2 separate regions of the Homo sapiens genome follow, and region 1 is linked to region 2. Evidence: fine-mapped expression QTL. Tissue or cell type: whole blood. Region 2 holds a variant in brackets; the other region holds the start of a gene. All regions are shown on one strand. Distances are between the middles of the regions. Region 1 holds the start of MMAB (metabolism of cobalamin associated B). Region 2 overlaps UBE3B (ubiquitin protein ligase E3B).

Region 1 (4,391 bases), 64 kb after region 2:
GGGTTTCACCACATTGGCCAGGCTAGTCTCAAATTCCTGGCCTCAGATGATTAGCCCAACAGGGCCTCCCAAAGTGCCGGGATTACAGGCATGAGCCACCGCGCCTGGTATATTATACTTTAAAGTGGCTGCAAAGAATTTGGAAGAACTTTAAAATGGTGTATGCCATGAGTATTTCTTTGCATTTTTCACCTGTCCCCACCCTACCTTTGTCTCCCGTTTTGGTGTAAATCTTGGGGATCCTGGGTGTCTTCGAGGAAGGCTGTGGCCTAATGAGAAATAAACATCAGTATCTGGTGAGTGGGGATGGCTTACACAGAGGGTCAGCTCCTTCAGAGGGTCCCAGCTTGCTGCTTGTAACCTCAGAGGCAGCACTTACCCCTTACTGCTTAGATGGTCATCTCTTGTTGATTTCTTTCCCCTAGATCCTTTCTAATAGCAAACATTTTGTGGGCAAGACCAGAGCTGGATGACAGAGTGTGTAGAGTAGCTGATGTAATGCCTTGCTCAACAAAGATGCTCAATAAATATTTGCTGAAGGACTTGATTGATCCTTTGCCATTGTCCCTGCACTGTGCCAAGTAGTTTACAGGCATTATCTTCTGGAATTATCCTGGAATCTTTCCACAACCCCAAAGGTAGCCAACACCTATTCTCTTCATTTTACTGAGGAGGAAACTATGGCTCAGATGAGACACCTTCCTAGACCATCCAAGAAGAGGCAGGAGTGGGATGCCCAAAACTGTCCTAGACCAGAGCACAAACTGTAACTTCTATCCTACCGAAATTATTTATTTATTTATTATTATTATTATTATTTTGAGATGGGGTCTCACTCTGTCACCCAGGCTGAAATGCAGTTGCACGATCTAGGCTCACTGCAACCTCTGCCTCCCAGGCTCAAACAATCCTCCCACCTCAGCCTCCCGAGCAGCTGGGAGCACGGGTGTATACCACCACACCCAGCTAATTTTTTTTTTTTTTTTTTTTTGGTAGAGACGGGTTTCACCATGTTGCTCAGGCTGGTTTTGAACTCCTGAGCTCAAGCAATACTCCTGCCTCAAACTCCCAAAGTGTTGTGATTACAGGCGTGAGCCACCGTATCTGGCCTATGATTATTTTGTTCACAGACAGGGTCTTGCTCTGTTGCCTAAGCTGGAATGCAGTGCAGTGGCATGATCATAGCTCACTGCAGCCTTGAACTCCTGAGCTCAAGTGATCCTCTGCCTCAGCCTCCCAAGTAGCTAGGACTCTTAACTCTATCCTACCCAAATTTTTATCTTATACTCCACCAACTCAGGGCCTCTTGCAGGAAAAGAAACCTGAGCCACTTCCATAGTATGAGGCTTCGAGTGTACTCAGAGATGAAGAATTGCCAAAATACAGCTCAAAAAGTGGCATTTTCAAAAAACAATGTAAACAACTCAAGGACATAGCTCAAAATTAAAATGTGACATTACAAGCCCATTCGAAGGTTAATTTCCTGGATCTGTGAACTAAATTAATCCATTATTAATCCACGGTACTCTAGAGGTTCTGAGGTCTGGGTTGAGGTGCAAGTTTCAAGGAATATGAGGAAAGCCATCTTTAGAAGGTGCTGGTGTATCTGGGACCTGGGGAATAAACTGCTTTGGAGATTGGTCACAATCTGAGTCGAGAGCCCTCCTGGCCCACATGGGATATGCCCTGCCCTGCCCGATGATAGCGGGACTTCATTGGGACTTAGGCAAAGACTACCTGGTCTCTGGCGCCCACGTGGCCCACGTTGCCATGGTGACGTCAGAACAGCGTGGAGACGTCACCTGACGGTTGCCGCGGTGACCTCACGGCGGTGTGACGTACCCATGGCGACGACACCACGATTCACGGCAGGTGTTCGAGTTGCCCTTCCCGCCAGCCACTCACCTGTCCCCGTCTTCCACGCCCTGAGGGCCGCGGCTCTGGAAACGGGGATACAGGAGCCTGGCGGCGCCGAAGCACCCGCGCAGGCCAAGACGGCTCCCCAGGCCAAGACGGCTCCCCAGGCCGCACACAGCCATGAGCCAGGCTGCTTGACGGGACCTGACCCCGCCAGGTTCCCGTCCAGTCCGCGGGGTGACTCCACCCACAGCTGGCCGCGCCACCGCTCAGGTTTCAATTTTTATTGGTTCGCAGTTCTCACCCCAGGGCGGGACACTCCCAGGGACTTGTTTCCCATTGGTTTAACGGAAGGAGCGGGGCGGGAAAACCCGTGTCGGCTTGGCTGCAACACCTATTGACCAATGTTCAAGCCTATTGGTAAAGGTACTCCGGGCTCGCGCGCTCTGATTGGCTGGCCTGAAGTACAACGCCTCCTCCCCTTGAGGCACGGGCGCTCTGGGTTGTGGGAGTTGGGGAGCTGCTCCGGCTTCGGCGCGGAGGGGCGGCGGCCGGGGAGGCGGCGGCGGCGGCAGGTGAGAGGCCGGGGTCGGGCGGCCGGGCGGCGCGAGGTCCTAGACCCAGGACGACGCTGAGCCAGGCGTCCAGCTTCTGTGGCTCAGTTTACCCAGCTCTGAGAGTCTTGCCCCGAGGGATCGGCGACCTCAATCTGACAGTCGTGATTTTGAGCTTGACAAGCAAGGGGATTCCCCGCTCTGAGCCTCAGTTTTTCTAAGAAATGGGGATCACGATAGTACTTAGCTCATAGTACACCTGAATCTTAGCGTAAGGTAATCTACGTAAAGCCTTAAGCGGAGGATAATTTTGCGTTATGTATAAAAGTGTAAATTGCACACACCTATAGACCCTGCAAGCTCCTTTCTAGGACTCTGTCCTGCAGAAATACTCATTTAAGTGTGCAAAACGAGGCGTACTGGGTGTTTTCTGCAGCCTTGTTTATAATTGTGACACATTGGAAACAGCCTAAATGTCCAGCAAAGAGTTCTTTCTGCTCCATGATTTCATGTAATTTCTACCTTTAATAGTAGTAGTTGTAAAAGCTGAAACGAAGAACAGAGCCAGTAATAAGTAGCTCTCAGTAATTGAATGATTAGTAGGTGCCAGACACCGCCAAGTGTTTCCCTTGCGTTAATTTAACCTTCCTAACATCCACCGAGGTAGGTACGGTTATTTTCTCTCCATATAACGTGTGGGGAAACCGAGGTTCTTAGCCATTTAAGTGAGTTAACTAAGATGACATCACTGGGGAGTGGAAGAGCTGGCATTTGAACCCAGATCTGTTGGATGTGTCCAGTTGACTCCTGCATTGCCTTTCTGGTACGTAGCAAGTGCTGGACGGTAACTACCTTTTTTGTTATTATGATGGGCTTGAACTAGGTGTTCTAAGATCTCTTCCTGCTGGTTCTGACATCTAGAGATCTTTGCTCTTCTCATTGGCTTTCCCTTTTAGGATTCCCAGGAGCCATGTTGTCAGAAGTCCTACTGGTGTCTGCTCCGGGGAAAGTCATCCTTCATGGAGAACATGCCGTGGTACATGGCAAGGTACAAAGCCGTTAGAGCCTTTAAGGATTGGGTACCCCTTCTCCCTGATGCTAATTTTGTAAGAAGGTAAAAGGACACCCTGAGGCACAGCTTGGGAGCAGATCAGAGAGATCAGGTTCTCCCCAGCCAGGCAAGGAAAAGATTTCTTATGCCCACTGAAGGGATTCTTGGGCCTCGCTCGGTATGATAGCAAAAAGATGATTATAATATAAAGCCCTGTGAGTGGAATGAGATCACCTAGGAGTGAGCTTTGATGCAGAAGGAAAGAGGTTTGAGAACTGAGCTCCGGGGCACTAAGACATTTAGAAGTTGGAAGGATGATCTAGCAAAGGAGTTGAAAACATCCATTATCTCATTTTACCCTTACAGCTACCCCCAAGGCATACCCTTTTATTATCCTATTTTACAAATGTGCAAACTGAGGCTTAGGAGAGAAGTGGTAACTTGATCCAAGTCCTATATACCTTGGTAGAGCTTGGTGTGAACCTAAGTCTGTCTGAAACCACCTCTGCTGCACTCTGCTTTTTTTTTTTTTTCCTGAGACAGTCTTGCTCTGTCACCGGAGTGCAATCTTGCGATCATGGCTCACTGCAGCCTCCAACCTCAGCCTCCCAAGTAGCTGGGACCACAGGTGTGTACCACCATGCCCCACTAATTTTTTTCTTTTATTTTTCTGTAGAGACGTGGTCTGACACTACGCTGGTCTCAAACTCCTGGGCTCAAGTGATCCTCTTGCCTTGGCCTCCCAAAGTGCTGGGATTACAGATATGAGCCACCACACCTGGCTTCTCACTGCTATTCTTTATGTTCTTATATTTCTCATTGAAAACATGGTGATTATGGGGAAGTGATTCCTTGGTATTGAGAACCTCTGAAATTTTGCAGGCAGAAGGCAAAGTGGATTTTAACTTTTAGCTGATCGATGGTGGCTG
Region 2 (4,391 bases):
CTGATTTAAAGCATAAATGCTAAGTCAGACCTGAGTTCTATTCCTGGCTCTGACATACAGGCTGTGTGATTTGGGGCCAATTATTTAACCTTTCTGTGCTTCAGTTTCCTCCTGTATAAGATGGGGATAACACTGGGCTTCAGAAAATGGAAAGCAAACAATACATACGGAGTGCTTAGAATGGTGCCTGGCACATAGTCAGCACCCACTGACTACTGGCTCTTATCATTGTTACTCTCGTGGTGATAATGCTTTTCTCCATAATCCCACCTTCTTTTCACGCACATTAAATGTTCATGGATAGGTTTAAGTGTTTTGTTTCCCCACTGGATAGGAGAAATAACAGACCAGGTGGAGTCTCCACCTGAAGCTTGGGTTTCTCTGTGTTTTTTCCAGGTCTCACTTACCTTGATGACCTGCTTCCCAAACTGTGGGCATTTATCTGTGAGCTCGGGCCCCACGGAGGGTTAAAGCTCTTCTTGGAATGCCTGAACAATGACACTGAAGAGTCCAAGCAACTCTTGGCCATGCTGATGCTGTTCTGTGACTGTTCGCGGCACCTCATCACGTAGGTTGACTGCTGTGGGACTGAATTCCTTTCCTAGAATATGGAGAGACCAAAATACAGTGTCAGTAAGGAAGTAATTGCTAATGTGATTACTGCAAACATTTGGACCTGTGTGGCAGGGCATTGTAAGAACTAGCCATTTACCAAGTGAGCAGTGTGCAGTAAATGTTCAGCAGTTGTTAGGGTGGGGCCTGGGAGTTAAAAGTTCCCATCCTTTCAAGGAAGCTGATCAGTACCACTGGCTGTGGCTTGGGGTCTCCTGGAGATGGGTTTAGATCATGGCTCAGCCATTTATTCACTGTGCTAGCTAGATTCCTGGAAAATTCCAAAGTCAGAGCCAGGGTGCAGATCCTTGCTAAGCAGATCTTGAGACACCCTGGGCAAGGGATCACGGATTCAACCTCTCTGAGACTCAGTTGACTCATCTGTAAATGGGAATGACAATAGCACATACCTTTTAGGCACATGGTAGGGATTAAAAGACATAATTATTGCAAAGTGCTTATCACAGTCCCTGGCACATAGGATGAGTTCAGTACTTGTTGGCTCTTATTATTATCAAGCCGACCCTGAGCAAGTTTCTTAACCTCTTTGAGTCTCTATTTCCTCATTAGAATGAAGAGAATATTACCAGTTCAATAGAGGGTAAGTGAAAAAAACAGCGTCAAATACTTAGTGCAGTGCCTGGCACAGAGTGGGAAATTAACAAACATTAGTCCCATTTAGTTCCTTTGGTTTTTAAGCTTATGCATCTTGTGTGTTTGGTATTCTTTTCATTCCACCTTTTCCCAAAAGGTTGGTGAAGAATTATAAGATACAATGGACCTCAGGCAGTTATGTTCAGGCTGGAAGACTTTAGCCGGAGAGGATCAGGGACATGTAGGTGGCAGATTGGGTGAGGATCATGGAAGAACTCACTGAGCAGTTGGAGGCAAGAGCAGGGGTCTAGCTGCTGGTGAAGACATCCTTAATCACTGGATGGGGGTAAGCCAAGAGTGAATCTTATTCTAGTGTATGGAGCAGTGTTAGGAAATGTTCAGATAGAGCTGTGTCTTAAATGGCTCATTTATTCATATGTTCTTTCAAACATTTATTCATTTACTCACAAATGCTTACTAAGTACCTGCTAAGTGTCACTAGTATGTGTCTTAGATATCGAAAAGATTCTGCAGCTTTCCTCAGTAAACATCGACTCTCAGTCAATGTTCCTTGATATGCAGACATGAATAAGGAAGGCGTGAATTGAGGTGTGAATTAAGAAAGTGTCACAGTCAGATCCTTATGAATAAGAAAAATATAGAGTACAGATTTTTTCTTAATTGTATTTTTTAACTTTTTACTATGGTCGATTTCAAATTAATAGAAAGTAGAAAGGATAATATAATGAACCCTCATGTGCCCATTATCAGCTTCAACAGTACCACCTCACAGCCAGTTTTGCTTCATCCAAATGCCCACCTGCTTTTCTCTCCCACATTATTTTGAAGCAAATCCTAGACATCATATCATTTTTTTCATTTTATTTTTATTTTATTTTACTTTAAGTTCTAGGATACATGTGCTGAAAGTGCAGGTTTGTTACATAGGTATACATGTGCTGTGGTGGTTTGCTGCACCTGTCACCCCGTCATCTAGGTTTTAAGCTCTACATGCATTAGGTATTTGTCCTAAGGCTCTCCCTCCCCTTTCC[C/T]CCTACCCCTGATGATATCATATCATTTTATCTGTAGATTTTACAGTAAGTATCTCTACAAGATAAAGCTTATTTCTCAACCTCGTTTATTGTCTAGTAAGCAGTACAGATTTTTTTTCTCTTCGCCTTTTTTCAGTGTGGAATTGTGGGTAATTTTCTCTCTGATTTAGAATCCTTGATGACATTGAAGTTTATGAAGAACAGATTTCATTCAAACTGGAAGAGCTGGTCACTATCTCCTCTTTCCTGAATTCTTTTGTGTTTAAGATGATCTGGGATGGAATTGTAGGTAAGAGAAAAGGTGTCTGCTGTTGTTTGGTTGATGCTGCACCCAGGGAGGCCGAAGAGTCTATGGCATCAACTGATTCTTAGCTTTATTGTCTCTCCAAGTTAATAGAAGGTGCACATTTATTCCCACAATTGGAAATTTTCTTTCTTCACTCTCTGTGACTTCTTAAGATAGTGGTGTGGTTATAGAAGTCTTGCTCTCCCAGGCTCCCTTCAGGATTTGCATGTATGTGTCGAGGATTATTAATGATGATTAATTTTGCCCTGAATCTCCTGTTGATTCTTCCATTTGATTTCCGTGAAGATAAAACATGTGCCAGTGCACACTTGAGATGAGAGTCCACCTCCCGAAGTGTCTCCAATTGCTCAGGACAAAGCTCCTTAGACTTAAAAGGCCCTTCGGATGACACACTAGTGGGAGGCAGCATGAGTGATTTTGTCTGAGAGGTACTCAGGCCCTGCAGACACTTAGCACTTACCCAGGGTGCCTTTTAATTCTGTCGGTTCCACATATAATTCAGAGCGAGGGAGATCAAGGACTTGATGACAACTGCGGAAGACAAGAGCTGTCCTCCCCTTGCTCTCTGGCTCTGACTCCTCCTCTGACTTTCCTGTTTGTTTGTCCCACAGAGAACGCCAAGGGTGAGACCTTGGAGCTGTTCCAGTCTGTCCACGGGTGGCTTATGGTGCTGTACGAGCGGGACTGCCGGCGGCGCTTCACCCCCGAGGACCACTGGCTGCGAAAGTGAGCTCCAGGGGTGAGGAGGGCTCCATGGAAGCCAGCCTGCTCCGGCACGCTGCCCGAGCACTCAGCTCTCATGTTCTAGGGCAGAGAGGACTTTTTCCCTCTGCTTCATTTTGTCTGTTCATTTGTGTAAAGAGAGCTGCTGTCCCTGTGAAGCACCTGTCAGGACGCTTCTGTTAAGAGATGTTTACACCAAATATGATTAGAGTTAATTAATGGCAACAGAGCCAGATTATATTTAGCATACATTTCTCATCCAAACTAGGAAGAGGTCTTTTAGCTGAGCTGAGCAACAGAGCATGAGAGTTAAAAGGCAGTTTTTATTAGCAGAATTACTAGAGTAAAAACTGCTTTTAGGTTTTTTGGAGAGTAATGGGGTGGGGGAAATCCTCCTATCACAACTGAACATAGGCATGTATCTGCATTTTTATCAATGAGTTCAAGCTTTATGGCAACTGCTGAAGCTGTGGCACTAGAGCAGGGACTGGCAAACTTCTGTAAAGGGCCAGATGACTTTAGGCTTTGTGGACCAGACAGTCTCTGTTGTAGCTACTCAACTCTGCTCTTGTAGCACAAAAGCTGCCATAGGCTATACATGTATGAATGAGTATGGTCATGTTCCCATCAGACTCTTGAGAAACAGACAGCACCCTGCATGTGGCCCACATGGTGTCATTTCCCAGCCTCACACTAGAGGATGGTTTCCTTCTTTTAATTCTCCCAAACCCATGTCTTTCTTCTCAAGGGATCTCAAACCTAGCGTGCTCTTCCAAGAACTCGACAGGGACAGAAAACGGGCACAGTTGATCCTGCAGTACATCCCACATGTCATCCCTCACAAAAACGTGAGTTGCACTCAGAGCTGGGCCCCGATGTGTCTTTCTATTCCCCCACGTGGTTCCTGCCTTTCCATCCTTGCTATGGCAATTGGAGGTGACTAAGTGGGATCATTCATTCAGCACAAGGAAACGGTGGTTGCTATTACTTTGGTGAGGTTACACCCAGTGCTGGGGTACAGAGCTGGAGAAGACAGTGTGAACTGGCGATGCTGGTGGAGTGGCAGCCCAGGTACGGAGACCTGACCAGCTGGAGGGAGGGAA

What was found.
Region 1: it holds the start of MMAB, and the variant in region 2 is fine-mapped to the expression of MMAB in whole blood (TOPMed, PIP above 0.99).

Annotation. Positions count from the first base shown.
Region 1 is chr12:109,571,442-109,575,832 of GRCh38, forward strand. MMAB (metabolism of cobalamin associated B) reads right to left here and starts at 2,063. Exons shown (of 9, transcript NM_052845.4): 1 at 1,906-2,063; 2 at 208-269. The coding sequence starts at 2,039. It overlaps MVK (mevalonate kinase), which reads left to right and starts at 2,353. Exons shown (of 11, transcript NM_000431.4): 1 at 2,353-2,432; 2 at 3,368-3,459. The coding sequence starts at 3,382. RefSeq lists enhancers at 1,453-1,954, 1,955-2,454 and silencers at 2,214-2,343, 2,364-2,593.
Region 2 is chr12:109,507,168-109,511,558 of GRCh38, forward strand. UBE3B (ubiquitin protein ligase E3B) reads left to right here. Exons shown (of 28, transcript NM_130466.4): 15 at 397-568; 16 at 2,429-2,547; 17 at 3,177-3,291; 18 at 4,037-4,136. Among named protein-coding and RNA genes, the nearest start is that of UBE3B, 32 kb to the left of the region's middle. The variant C/T (reference allele first, on the strand shown) is at 2,259.